Regions from separate parts of the Homo sapiens genome. Here regions 1 and 2 are each reported to be linked to region 3. Evidence: microRNA targets listed by miRTarBase, many of them from high-throughput screens and not tested one by one. Region 3 holds a microRNA gene; each other region holds the end of a gene's coding sequence.

Region 1 (4,000 bases), not on the chromosome of region 3:
GTTTCCTGCTGCTTTCTGGACAATGAAACATGAACAAAAATGTAACTTCGTGTATTTAATACTTAACCCCTGTTCGTTATCACCCTAGACTGCCTCCCTAATGTTTTAAAGCCTTTAAAACATTTTTTCCTGCAAATCTGTTCAGAGTTCCCTAATTTTAGCTTCATCAAACTTAATACAACAAAATACCTTCAAAAATACAGCATACCTGTAACGTCCATTTACAATGGTTTTTCAGTAGACCTATACTTCTCAAGCATAGGAATATGCTATACCATTGAGAGAAAAAAATAATTGTATTTAAATACTTACAAAAAAAAAAAAAAAAAGGAAACAGGAAAGTTTTAAACTTAAATCCAGTTCCCAAAGGGGGGGTAAAAAGAAAGAAAAGCAATTCTATGAACGCTGCCTTTATAATGAACGATCAGAAATTTTACTAGGCTAATTTGACAGAAATTTTTCCTCATTTAAACAACATTACAAAAGTCCTGCATTATAAAATAGGGTAGAATAAATCAGTGTAATCAATAAAACTATACAACAATACAAATTACATATCTTCTGAGCGGGCAGTTTATTCTCTCTCTTTGCAGTCATGACTACAACATGCTCACTAAAAACAACTAAAACTGCCCAAACTATTGCTTAGTTTGTTTTGTTTAAAAAAGGGTGCAATTTTATTGTATATACAACCAATTTACTGGTAATACCTTGGCTTATTGCAAGGTTCTGACAAAATGTTTGTCTAGGCTTTTTTCCCTTCACTGTGAAGCACTGAAAGCTGCTATTTTTTCTTTTTTTTTTTCTTTTTTTCCTTTTTTTCATTTTTTAGTGCACATATGTCATAATAAAGTAATGCCCAGCTAAGTGCTATAGGGGAAGGCAAAGTATGCTGGCTGGCTATAGGAAGTGACACCATACACTGACAATCACACCATACAACAGCGCCAAACGACTATTCAACCACTTATCAGACACATATGAAAATCCAAAATGTTTTATTTTATTTTTTTTTCCTTAAATAGAGATAACCAGTAAACAATTTTCAGAACTTGGAAGTTTAAAAACGTGCATATAAAAATGGGCATTATATACTTTTTATTGAATGTGGATTGACTGCAGTCTGCTAAGAAAAATGGGGTGTGGGAGCTGAAGAAAAAGGAAGTTGTCTTTTTTTTTTTTAAGGCTTGCTTGTGAAAGGAACAGTTGTAAAAACAAAATTGCTTGAAGCAGGGTCAGCTTAGTGCTTCACAGTTTGACTGCTTCTCTAAGAGGAGCCCTTCCTGCGCACGTGCATTCAAAAATCACAAAAAAGTACAAAGACAAACACCTAAAACACACTGCGTCAAGTGCAGCACCGACTTTGGTCAAATAAAAAAAAATAAAAGAAAAATTAATAATTGCTAAGCTTTTCTACATGATATAAGCAGGTATTGCATATTTTCATATATCTGGGGGAAAATAAAGGAAGACTCCAAATAAATTGTAAAATGCAGCAACATCCAAAATACTGATATTCTAAGCATCTACAGATCTCAGAATAGCACTGCCACCGACCGTACAGGACAATAAAGACTACTCCTATCTGCGGAACAACTAGCTTTCTATTTAGTTCTAGATGTTGAAACTGACGATGGCTGACATAAAAGTCACATTTACAAAAAGTGTCTCCAAATGCTTGACTAGGGAAAAACCCCTTTCAATAGAGGAGCATGTGCAACAATTCCACAAATAATCGCTATCCAGGGCAAGGCACATTGATATGGAATTTTTGTTTTCGTGCAAATTAAGGAAAAAAAACAAAACAAAACAACATTGTTTCGGGGAGAAAGATGAGGAGCAAAGTGTCTTCCCAAGAATTTCAGTTACTTGATTGTATAGGACAGTAGTAGAACCCTTCTGAAGGGCTGAAAAACATAGTTTAAAGGCAAGTGCCTAGAGTAGGGATTACAATATTGTGTCTTAATGCACTCTACTTTATCCTACATTAACTATATAAAAATTAGTTACTAACACTAGAACATGCAGAGACTTTCTCTGATCAGCAGGGCTTGCCAACCAGAACGTATATATATGTATAGTATAGGAAACCTTCTTGAAGTCGCATGGGAAGCAAAGGGGTGCTTCGCTGTCTGGTAGAAAAATCACTTGCACTTTTTTTTGTTTTTGTTTCTGTGGTTTTTTGTGTTTTTTTTTTGTTTTTGTTTTTTGTTTTTTTTTTCATAAGATACAGGACGTTTGGGGGTGCAAACTTTTTTTTTTTTCCCTAACAAGTACCCTTGATCTGAATGGGCACCAGCATTTGTGTCAGTATTGGTTTCATCATTATTATTATTATTATTATTACTATTATTATTTCCCATAGCCCAGTTCAGGGATGCAAAGGTCTTTAAAACTTCTGGACAATCTCTGGTACAATGAGGTGTCTGATAACTGATAAATCCTATGATGCCAGATAGGTGTAAAATTTTTTAGAATTGGCGTAATCCATTATAGTGACTTCTAGCTTATAAAATTAACAGATACCATGATTTCATTTTAGTCATGTGCTTTGATAACAGAAAATAATTAATTAGCATTTAATGTAGTTAACATATTGTGGTAAAAGCACCATTAGATTTGTTTTTTTGTTTTTTTTTTTTAATTTCCTTCAGTTTTTAAAGGGATACAAGTTTAACAATAAAAAACATAAAAAGCAAAAATAGCTCCCCTTTTTCTTGCAAGGCTGTTTTTTACCCCAATAATTTAGAGTCCTGGGGTGAAAGGACTAGAAAAACAAAAATAGAATTTTCAACAATCTCTATCTTACAAAGATATTTAGCTATCCAATGAAATTGCACTTTACTCAATTCAAAATTCGATTGTTTTGATTGATTCCTGTCAGTTTCTGTCAAAACAGACCATCTTCCCCATTTCCATGTGAATTTTTGTGTCATTGTTGAAATTGTTGAAAAAATGTTGTTGTTGTTTTTTTAAATGTAAGTGCAGCATTTCAAAACTTTTAAAAAACTGAACAGTAGTAGTAGTAGTTTGCCATTTTCGGAATTGTTCTGCAATGTGAGTGGATTCATTGTCCTTGCGGGCCATGTTATATACTTAACTGCTGACTGCTGAACCAAAACAAACTAAAGGAACAAATAAAAAAGGAATATAACTGCATTTTCTTTTTCCAATATGTTACAGAAAAACATTGCCCTTTGACTGTCCCGTTATATATTGCAGATCTCAGCTACTACAAAAGATTTAGTTCTCCATGTGCCTCCTCAATGCTCAAGGAGGATCACACCTGTGTGGGTAAATTCATGAAATACTGTGAAACAGCCAGGCTCCGTAAGGAAAGTGTGTTACAACAGGAAGTCAGTGAGCAAGGGTAGTCCTCCGCTAGCCACGTCACCTAATGCTCACGCTACCATGGAAACACTTCAAATGTTACAAAGCCCAACCATTTCCAGCACCATATGAGAAATTACAACAGTCCCTAAAGTATTTTAAAAAAAAAAAAATCCCAAAAGGTTATGGCCTTTGCTGTTTGACCATAATGCTTGCTGTTTCCATGTACAAGTTGATTTGAATCGGTTTTTCTCCCCTTCCGCTGATAGTGAAGTTGTAACTGCGCTGGGTTGAGGTTGCGTCCATGTTACAGAGTTGAGAAGGGGTCAGGTGGTCTGTCTGGTGGATGGTGGGACGCTGCAACTTTTATCCCAGGTACCAGGACTGGAAGACAAAAGGAAAAATACAATTAAAATCACAATTTGTAAAAACGTGTGTTTTAGAAGTTGCCTTTTCAACCACGAAATCAGGATCTACGTTAGGGATGCGGGAGGGATTCGCTGGGAAAAGTAAAGGCACGACAGACAATAAAAAATCCTGTGACACTGAAACTGATCTTATTCTTCTGAAATTATAATTCATTGTCTTCATTGGGGTTTTCCAACATTCTGAGTATATCTTACAGAATGAGGTATTTCTGTTCACTTGAAATACAAATAAGGGTTTTGTT
Region 2 (4,000 bases), not on the chromosome of region 3:
TTCTGCCTGTTCTTACATCAGCCACTTTCAGAAAAATGGGAGAGACATTTTTTGCTGGTGAACAGGAAACAAAGCTCCAGACCCCTCTGGACATGATTGTTCCAGTCCATGCCTTTCTCACAACCTCTGAGCCATGCCAGTCTTGGATTGGGCTTTGCAGGAAGGAACAGGACCCCAGAGACAAAGTCGGGGGGTAGAGGTTATCCTGTTGGCACCTGGGGCACCACTTCAGACTCTGAATCATCTTTCTGGTATTGACTGTGGCTGGGTCATGGTCACAATGTCCTGTCCTGGATTTAGTTGTGCTGTGACCTTCCCCTAGCAAATGAAGAGTAGGGCGTGTGTGTGTGTGTGTGTGTGTGTGTGTGTGTGTGTGTGTGTGTGTGTGTTTGGGGGGTAGGGGGTGCGGCGATGGGAATGGATGATTCTATCCAAAAGAAGATTCACTTTCTTTTTATATTAAATAGGAAACCTGTTTTTAGTACAGTGCCTGTAATCCACAAAGATAAGATCTGCCCCACTTCATTCCTAGAAATCTACTTCTATGGCACCTGTTCTTTGTCTTAATTCATCTCACTTTCCCTCCCCACTCCCACATGCTTTCGGACTGCATGCTGAGAGTGCAGAACCAGCCTCATTCCTTCTCATGGGCTGTAGACCAAATGGGGCTTGACCAGAGCAGAGTGACAGAGTGGACCAAGAAACAAAAGAAATCGAGCCTTCCTCAGGTCTGCTCACGTGGGTCCCATAAATTCCATCCATAACTCCAAGTCCTTAAACAAGCCATGTTTCCCCAGGAAATTCAGGCACCTGTTTTCCTTTGTTTCATTTCCTGGCTTATGACTGTTCTGCCTGGACAAGGCTGTTCCATCTTTCGCTCTCCAGCAATAGCATCATCCTGAGCACTCTGTGGGTCTTCCTTCACCTTCCACAAAGCAACTCTTTCTTGGATTGATGGAGTCCGCTTCTGGGATTTCTTCCAAGCTGCTGAGATCTCTTTATTTCTAAAGGAAACCTAACAGTGGCCTTCCTTACTATCACACCCTCCCCTGGGACTGGCATTACCATCCTATGTGTGGAGAGCACCTGGGACAGATATAATTTAAAAGAAAGATGCCAGGGTAAGGCTTGGGAAGTGTAGAAATCATATGGGCACCTGGTCAGCAACATGAGGAAATGGAGGGTGTGGTGTGACGGCCTAGGGGTCAGGGAAACAATATGTTCTTGTCAGGCCCTACACCTGCTGGCTGACCTGGACCAGCCATTTAATCCCATGGGCCTCTGCTCCCTCAACTTTTAAAGGAAAGTGTTGGATCAACTGAACTCTAAAGTTTTTTTCAGTTTATTATTTCATGATCCCTAGTCAAACACTGATACCCCAAAATAGGATTTTCCTTCCTTCCTCTGAAGATTATTTCAAAAAATCCAAGAGGAATAACAGACTTTCTGGATGCTGCTCTACCATGTTCTTCTGTTAAATCAAGTTCCTTTTCCCGCAATTGAAGGATGTTGCAGATGTGAAACGTGTGGTAAAGAACATTGTCTTTGCTTTCAGGTCCCACCTGGCCCTTTCTGGCCGTAGCTGGTACTAGATTTTGATAAAAGTATCCTAATACTCAGGGACTATTTCTCAAAGACCAGAATCCCAAGAGCCAGAGACTGGATGAGAGACACAAAGCACAAGACAGCAATTTCCTTATGGCTCTCCAAGCAGGACACGCATGAGACCCTAGTAACCAGAAGCAAAGCTGGCAAAACTGTCTGCAGGAACAGAGAGGAAGGTAGAAAATTAGAGAAAAAAGGAGTGAAGCAACTTAGTGGCTCCTGACCCCTCCCAGATCTCCCTTCTGGGAACCCACTCCCCTATTAGGGAGATTTTCTCAGACAGTTCCTGCAGCTCCCAGGCTCTGCAGGGGCTAGAACCAACCACAGAAACAAGACCAAGGCACTGCTTCTCAAGAAGAAACTGACCTCATGCACTGTCTGAGTTACCTCAGCTAGAGAGGGTGAAAATCATCAGTTATCATCAGGGCAACAAATTGCTTTCTCCTAGTTCATCCTGGACTTACAATATGAAAGAGACATTTCCCAGCCCAACAGACAATACATAATTCCAATTAGCAAAGACCTCCAGGGTTGAGTGGACTCCTAGTGTTTTTTTGTTTTGTTTTGTTTTTTTATGACACGACTGCACGATGTGGATCTGGTCCTGCCTATGTGGTTGTTCTCAGGTACAGGAATGTGTCTAAGCATGGCCTCCAAAGGTCCCTTGGAAACCCCTGGCTGGTAGGGAACCCGCACTGTGCCATCAGCTACAGTCCACAAAGGTAAATGAACAGATGCCACCAGGAAATGAGGATGGACTGGCTCTGTGTGATCATAAGCTCAGAGCATCAGGGAAATGGTCATTTGAAACTAAGAAAACAGATTCAAATTATTCTGAGAAAACCGACTATTCACAGACTCGTGTCCCAGGTTTCAGAACCCGAAAATCTCACTCCTGATCAAAGGTTGCTGCTGCTGCTGCTGCTGCTGCTACTGCTATATGTGTGTGTGTATGTGCGTGCGCGGGTGCACACGCATGTGTGCGTGTGTGTGTGTGTGCGTGTGTGTGGTGCTGAAGAAGTGGAGGTTGCTTGGCCTTCTCTACTGGGTGTGGCCCTGATGAACTCACTGAGTGCTGAGGCTGGCTACAATGTCCTATCAGAGGGGAAGTAATACCACAGGAGCACATCAAGACTACAAACATAAAGAACCATGGACACTGATTTCATCCAAGTTCTACAGGGAGTGAACAAAGAAAAATAAATAAACAAAAGAAAGAAAAGAAAAATAGCCCTTTGTAGTAAAGGGCATGCTGGGAAGGCAAGAGCCAGAGCCGCCTCCCCAGAGCATGCTGGGAGGAGGGGCACCAGAGCCGCCTCTCTAGAGCATGCTGGGAGGATGGGCACCAGAGCCGCCTCCCCAGAGCGTGCTGGGAGGATGGGCACCAGAGCCGCCTCTCTAGAGCATGCTGGGAGACGGACACCAGTACATCTCCAAGGACTGCACTTCCCCCGACTCCCACCCCATTCCCTCACCCACCCCCAACCCGGAGACTAGAGGAAAGTCTGTCCAAAGATGACTGTGGAATAGGGAATGCCATGGTTCTCTGCAGGTCCCCCACACTATGGGGGGTTAAGTCAGCAAGTAGGGAAAACAGTCAAGACGAGGAGATGGAGAAACAGAGAGGCAGGAGAGAAACAGGGGGCTGACAAAGATGGAGGGGCCATTGTGTTGCCGGAGGACGAGGGGCTGCTAGCCGGAGGCATTGATGTACAGCTGGCTTTTGAGGATGTAGTCGATGACCGGCTGGGACAGGTAATCCACAACATGGCCGTCCCCATGCTGCAGGGCCAGCCTGCACAAGAAGAGATGACAATCAGATGGACATCCACACCCAAAGCAAGTCAGGAGGACTGGCATGCCCCTGTCTCCCCAGCACCCCATTTGTAGCCTTTTCTCAGGTTGAGTAAATAGTTCTGTATTAGGAAAGGCCCTCTTGCCTCCACAACTCCTTCCCCACCTTGGTGACATCATTCATCGTGGTTCTGCCACTTCCTAGGTGAGAGGCCTTGGGAAAGTTATTTAAGCCCCTCTGTTCTTCAGTTTTTTTCCTGTAAAATGAGGGTAATATCTGGGCCCCTCTCATTTAGTTATTCAAAGGATTAAATGAGTCATTATGCAAAGCACTTAGAAGAGTGCCAGACACACAGTGGGCATCTAATGTATTCACTATTCTTTTTTCTCAAATAAATTGTATTGTGTATATTTAAGTCATACAATCTGATGTTGTAAGATACACATATATTATCATCATATAATATAGTATATCTATGTTATATTACATATTTATTATATATTTTATAATTTATATATTATACTATATTATATTATTTATATAATAGTGTTAATATTATATTATATTATATTATTTATATAAGTGTTAATATTATATTAT
Region 3 (4,152 bases):
TACTGGAGCTGACAGCCAATGAGTGTAATGATACAAAAAAGGTAACAATCCATTTCTTTTTCTCCTGCCATCCCCAACTCAGACTCTGTTAATCAGCTTGCTTGGCTGGCCTCCAACCATAGGTCCAGGGGCTGAGACAAGGTCCTTTTGAGCTCCTATGTGGGAGGCTCTGGAAAGCTTAGCAACACTTTCCAACAACTTTGCCAGGTAAGTAGGTAAGTCTCCTTGTTCTCATTTCCAGAGAAGACAACTGAAACCCAAAGAAAGACTTGCCCAAGCCATGATTGGCTAGTTGATGGCCAAGACAGCATTAGAACACAAGTTTGTCGATTCTGTCATGCCATATTTGGTGACCATGACTGCTGCTTTTGCTGCTGGGTGGATTAGGCTGAATTGGGTAGGTAGAAAAGGAAGTGAGGGAGTGAAAGAGCTTTAGTTTTGAGATGACTGCCAGAACTTAAATTGAAGGAGTATGTTACCTTCTTAACATTCAATTAAAAGAATAGAGCAAGAAAAGACACTGATTGTTTTCTTGCTGAAAGACAAGGCTGAATCCCTCTGTCTTACCTGGGCTGGGACAGGGCTTTCCGGCCTCATGGGGGCAGTTTACCATTTCTGGTAACCTTGTGATGTTTGCCACTTTTCATGACAATATTTAATGTAGACCAGCTACCTGCTCACAGATCAACTGCCACAGCTGGTAAGGGCAGTAATTTGACACCAGCAACCTGGGATTTTTAGCAACAGGATCTGATTGTTGCCAAGGGAATTCTCCCAGAAGTTTCAGACCTGACCCTGCTCCTGGCAGCTTCCTTATTGCCCTGGTGGCTTGTGGGTTCAGTGATCCCAAATGTTGCATTACAAAGCTATTGCCTGTTTTTGCCCTCTTTGTTGATGTGTCTTCCCTTTCCCAGAGGGATATACAGAGAAGGGAGGCAAAATAACCAATGAGGAAAGCTGTATAAGGCATACTGCTGAACTGTAAAAAATTTATTGTATAAACTTTACAAGTCTCCTCCCCAACAGGAGCCTTTGTTATCTCATTTATAACCTAAGTGAGTGAGACTAGATGATCTTTAAGGGCACTTTAATAGCTGCCATTCTTGAGTCCCTATGGGACAAGAGGATCATGTTAGGCAAGGCTGAGACCACAAGAAATCAATGTCACACCTGTCCAGATCCTGCTAAATCAATTGCCAATAGCTCTTTCTTTCATTTTGGTCACACAACCACTACTTTTTGAGCATTTGTTATGTATTGAATACTGAACCAAAGGCTTTACATGCATTATCTCCTGTCATTCTCACAATAACCTTATGAGGTAGGTATTATACTTACATACATTTTGTGGGTGTAGAAAACTTGAGCTCAGAGAGGTGAAATGATGTATCCAAGGTTGCCTAACTAGCTAATGGAAGAACTAGGATTTAAGCTCATGTTTAACCTCAAAGCCTATGTGCATAACCACAACACTGAAAACACAGCTTGGGAGAATTGAGAAGAGGGAGCAAGGATGCTGACTCTAGGGTCTGGTACTTTCCTCAAGTCAGGGAGGCAGGATGATGACCAAATTTTCCCCTCTCTGCTGCATAGAGGAACCCACTGAAGCTTGGGACCCCTAGAAATGCCATAGCTACAGGACTCAGGCCTGATGAGCTTCCAGCTGAGCACTGGGTGTCACTCGGGCTTTACCTGCTTATCTTCAGGATCTCTCTTCTGGTTAGGAACCCTATGCCTATTTTGCTCACTTCCCTATTCTGGTGCTTTGGTTGGTCCTTTGAGCAAGATCCCCGGGGCTAAGGGTGTGACTTCATCATTCCTTTCTCTCTCTTTCCCTCTAGGGTCACATCTCCCAGGAAGATCTCACTTCCCCACAGAAGCTCTTGGCCTGGCCTCCTGCAGTGCCACGCTCCGTGTATTTGACAAGCTGAGTTGGACACTCCATGTGGTAGAGTGTCAGTTTGTCAAATACCCCAAGTGCGGCACATGCTTACCAGCTCTAGGCCAGGGCAGATGGGATATGACGAATGGACTGCCAGCTGGATACAAGGATGCTCACCAAGCACCAAGTTCTCACAAGTTATTTTATGTGACTTTGCAGGAACTGAGGCATTATATCTGAGGACACCAGGGGAAAAGTGTGGCATCTCAGGGAAATACAGCCCTGGGCTGTGTCTACACACACCATGAGAGTGCTGATGGGGGCGCAATAGTCTTGAAAATGTATAAAGTGTCCAGGAATGGAAGTGCTCTTTGATTCATTATTATTTTCTTCCTTCATATTCCCCTCCCAGAGTCTCCTATCTAGGACATCAGCATTCTCACACAAGCCTAATGGCTTATCTGAGTAAGCAGGGCTTAGAAATTCACTTTCTTGATACTCAGTCTTGCCTTCTAAACACTCCTTGATCTTGCCTACCTCTCCCCTTTTCCACATGTCTTTTCCTGTAGGAACACTTTCTCCATTTATTCCTGCCTATCCAATTCTTCCCTATATTTCCTGGACCAGCTAAAGTCCAGTGTTTCCAGAGACTTTTGAAAGTCAACTTACACTTTTTCCTTCTTCATTCACAAAGCTCTTCTTCCCTGGGCCCTGGTATGTATGCCTTTCTCTCCTACTGTCTAATAGCACCTCGTAAATTGTCAATGAACTTTTCTAAGGGGTATTCTTGAATTCCCAACTAGATTGTGAGCTTCTGGAAGACAAGGCTATGTCTTTGATTGTTGTCTCCCCTACCACAGCCCAGTACTTTAGTTACAGAAAATAATAAATATTTACTGATTGATTGACTTTCCTCTTGTCCACTAGCTTTAGGTTTGGGGGCCAAATTCTACCCTGGATTTTGAAAAATTCAAACTGTGAACACCACAATGTTATAGAGCATATGAGGTAGTAGCCAGCATGAAGGATGTTTTCTTCCTGAGAAACAGTGTCAAGGGCTGGAGGAAGAGGGCAAAATAGCAGACTCAGAGGGCAAATAAATTTTGGTATTACTTGGTCACACAAGGTTATACAGGTGTTTTCTTGTAGGATTTTTCAGAGCCTTTAATAGTCTAATGTTGCATTGAGAATCTCAAAGAGGAAACCATAGAATGAGGCATTTGCCATACCTATCTGATCATGAATTTTCTTTTCCCCCACAGCCTTCTCCTGTGTCAATGTCCAATGAAGCACGATTTGGGAAACTGTCCTAGAGAAACTTTATACCTTCCCGCTCTTCTGGAGATCTTTTCCTCTTTTCATTCATCTACTTTCCCCAACCAGCCATCTGCCTAAGAAAGGTCACATGTTATCATCTCATTTTTGTTTAGCCTCTGCAGCTGTGGACTATCTTTATTACATAGGAATTCTTTACTAGCTTGTCCTGTATTTAAAAATATTCTAAGTTTTGAGGCAAAGAAGATCCAGATGCTGCAATAAATATATGCACTGAGGAGTTCACAGGCCTGACTTTTGGTCTCCTTTCTACCACTAACTGTGTTTTTGTTCCTCTCTGAGCTTCATTTTCTCATCTCCAATACGGAAGTATTAGAATCAGTGATCTCTAGGCTCTTTAAGATTAATGACTTTGAGATATCCCTGGGAGTCCTTAGCTCTTATGGAGCAGCGTCCCTGGATGTGTGGCTCCTTTTACCAGTGAAAATGCAACCAGGATTCTCTTCCCAACACCTAAAACTCACTTTTTCTATGGGTAGTAGGGAAAGATAATGGGTATTTTCAAAGGCTGTAGGGTCTGGACGCAGAGTTGTTTCATGAAGGAAGTTGGGGTTTCCACTGGGTGGAGGCCCTATTTCAGAGGCTTGTAAGCACGATGGGGAAGAAAGAGTTGTTCCTTTCGCCAACTAGGAGAAGCTAGCGTCTGGAATGAGGAAAATGTTGAGGTTTTTACCCTGGATTTGGCATGTTGGGTGGCGGTGAAGTGGAGGACTCCTTTTTGTTACTTTCGTGTACTATTTTGACTTCTGTAATCATTGCAAAAGGGGAGCAGCTCCTTGTGAAACATGAGCTGACCTAGGGGCTGCATGGGAACCAGAAATAGCAACATGGCAGCTTCCTTGAAGAGTGCAGAAGTTGATTTGACATTAATTACATCGAGAAAATAAAACTGTGTCAACCTGGGTCAGAACAGGTCCTCACAGCGGAGCCTGATT

What was found. Region 3 holds the annotated microRNA hsa-miR-223-3p (UGUCAGUUUGUCAAAUACCCCA, at 1,955-1,976, shown strand). A microRNA usually pairs through its seed, bases 2 to 8, with sites in the 3' UTR of a target mRNA and lowers its output. Matches are read on the target gene's strand: a 7mer-m8 pairs with bases 2 to 8, a 7mer-A1 pairs with bases 2 to 7 and ends in A, and an 8mer does both.
Region 1: miRTarBase lists NFIA as a target of hsa-miR-223-3p. Seed matches in the 3' UTR shown: 8mer at 2,879-2,886 and 7mer-A1 at 2,306-2,312.
Region 2: the mRNA of NMNAT2 is a reported target of hsa-miR-223-3p. The part of its 3' UTR that is shown has no 7-base or 8-base seed match.

The regions. Positions count from the first base shown.
Region 1 is chr1:61,455,017-61,459,016 of GRCh38, reverse strand. NFIA (nuclear factor I A) reads right to left here. Exons shown (of 11, transcript NM_001134673.4): 11 at 1-3,714. The coding sequence ends at 3,697. Among named protein-coding and RNA genes, the nearest start is that of NFIA-AS1, 200 kb to the right of the region's middle.
Region 2 is chr1:183,249,344-183,253,343 of GRCh38, forward strand. NMNAT2 (nicotinamide nucleotide adenylyltransferase 2) reads right to left here. Exons shown (of 11, transcript NM_015039.4): 11 at 1-3,400. The coding sequence ends at 3,298. It also overlaps a transcript of LAMC2 not described here. Among named protein-coding and RNA genes, the nearest start is that of LAMC2, 65 kb to the left of the region's middle.
Region 3 is chrX:66,016,983-66,021,134 of GRCh38, forward strand. It overlaps MIR223 (microRNA 223), which reads left to right and starts at 1,888; the gene lies at 1,888-1,997. MIR223HG (MIR223 host gene) reads left to right here. Exons shown (of 3, transcript NR_170299.1): 2 at 83-207; 3 at 1,842-3,444.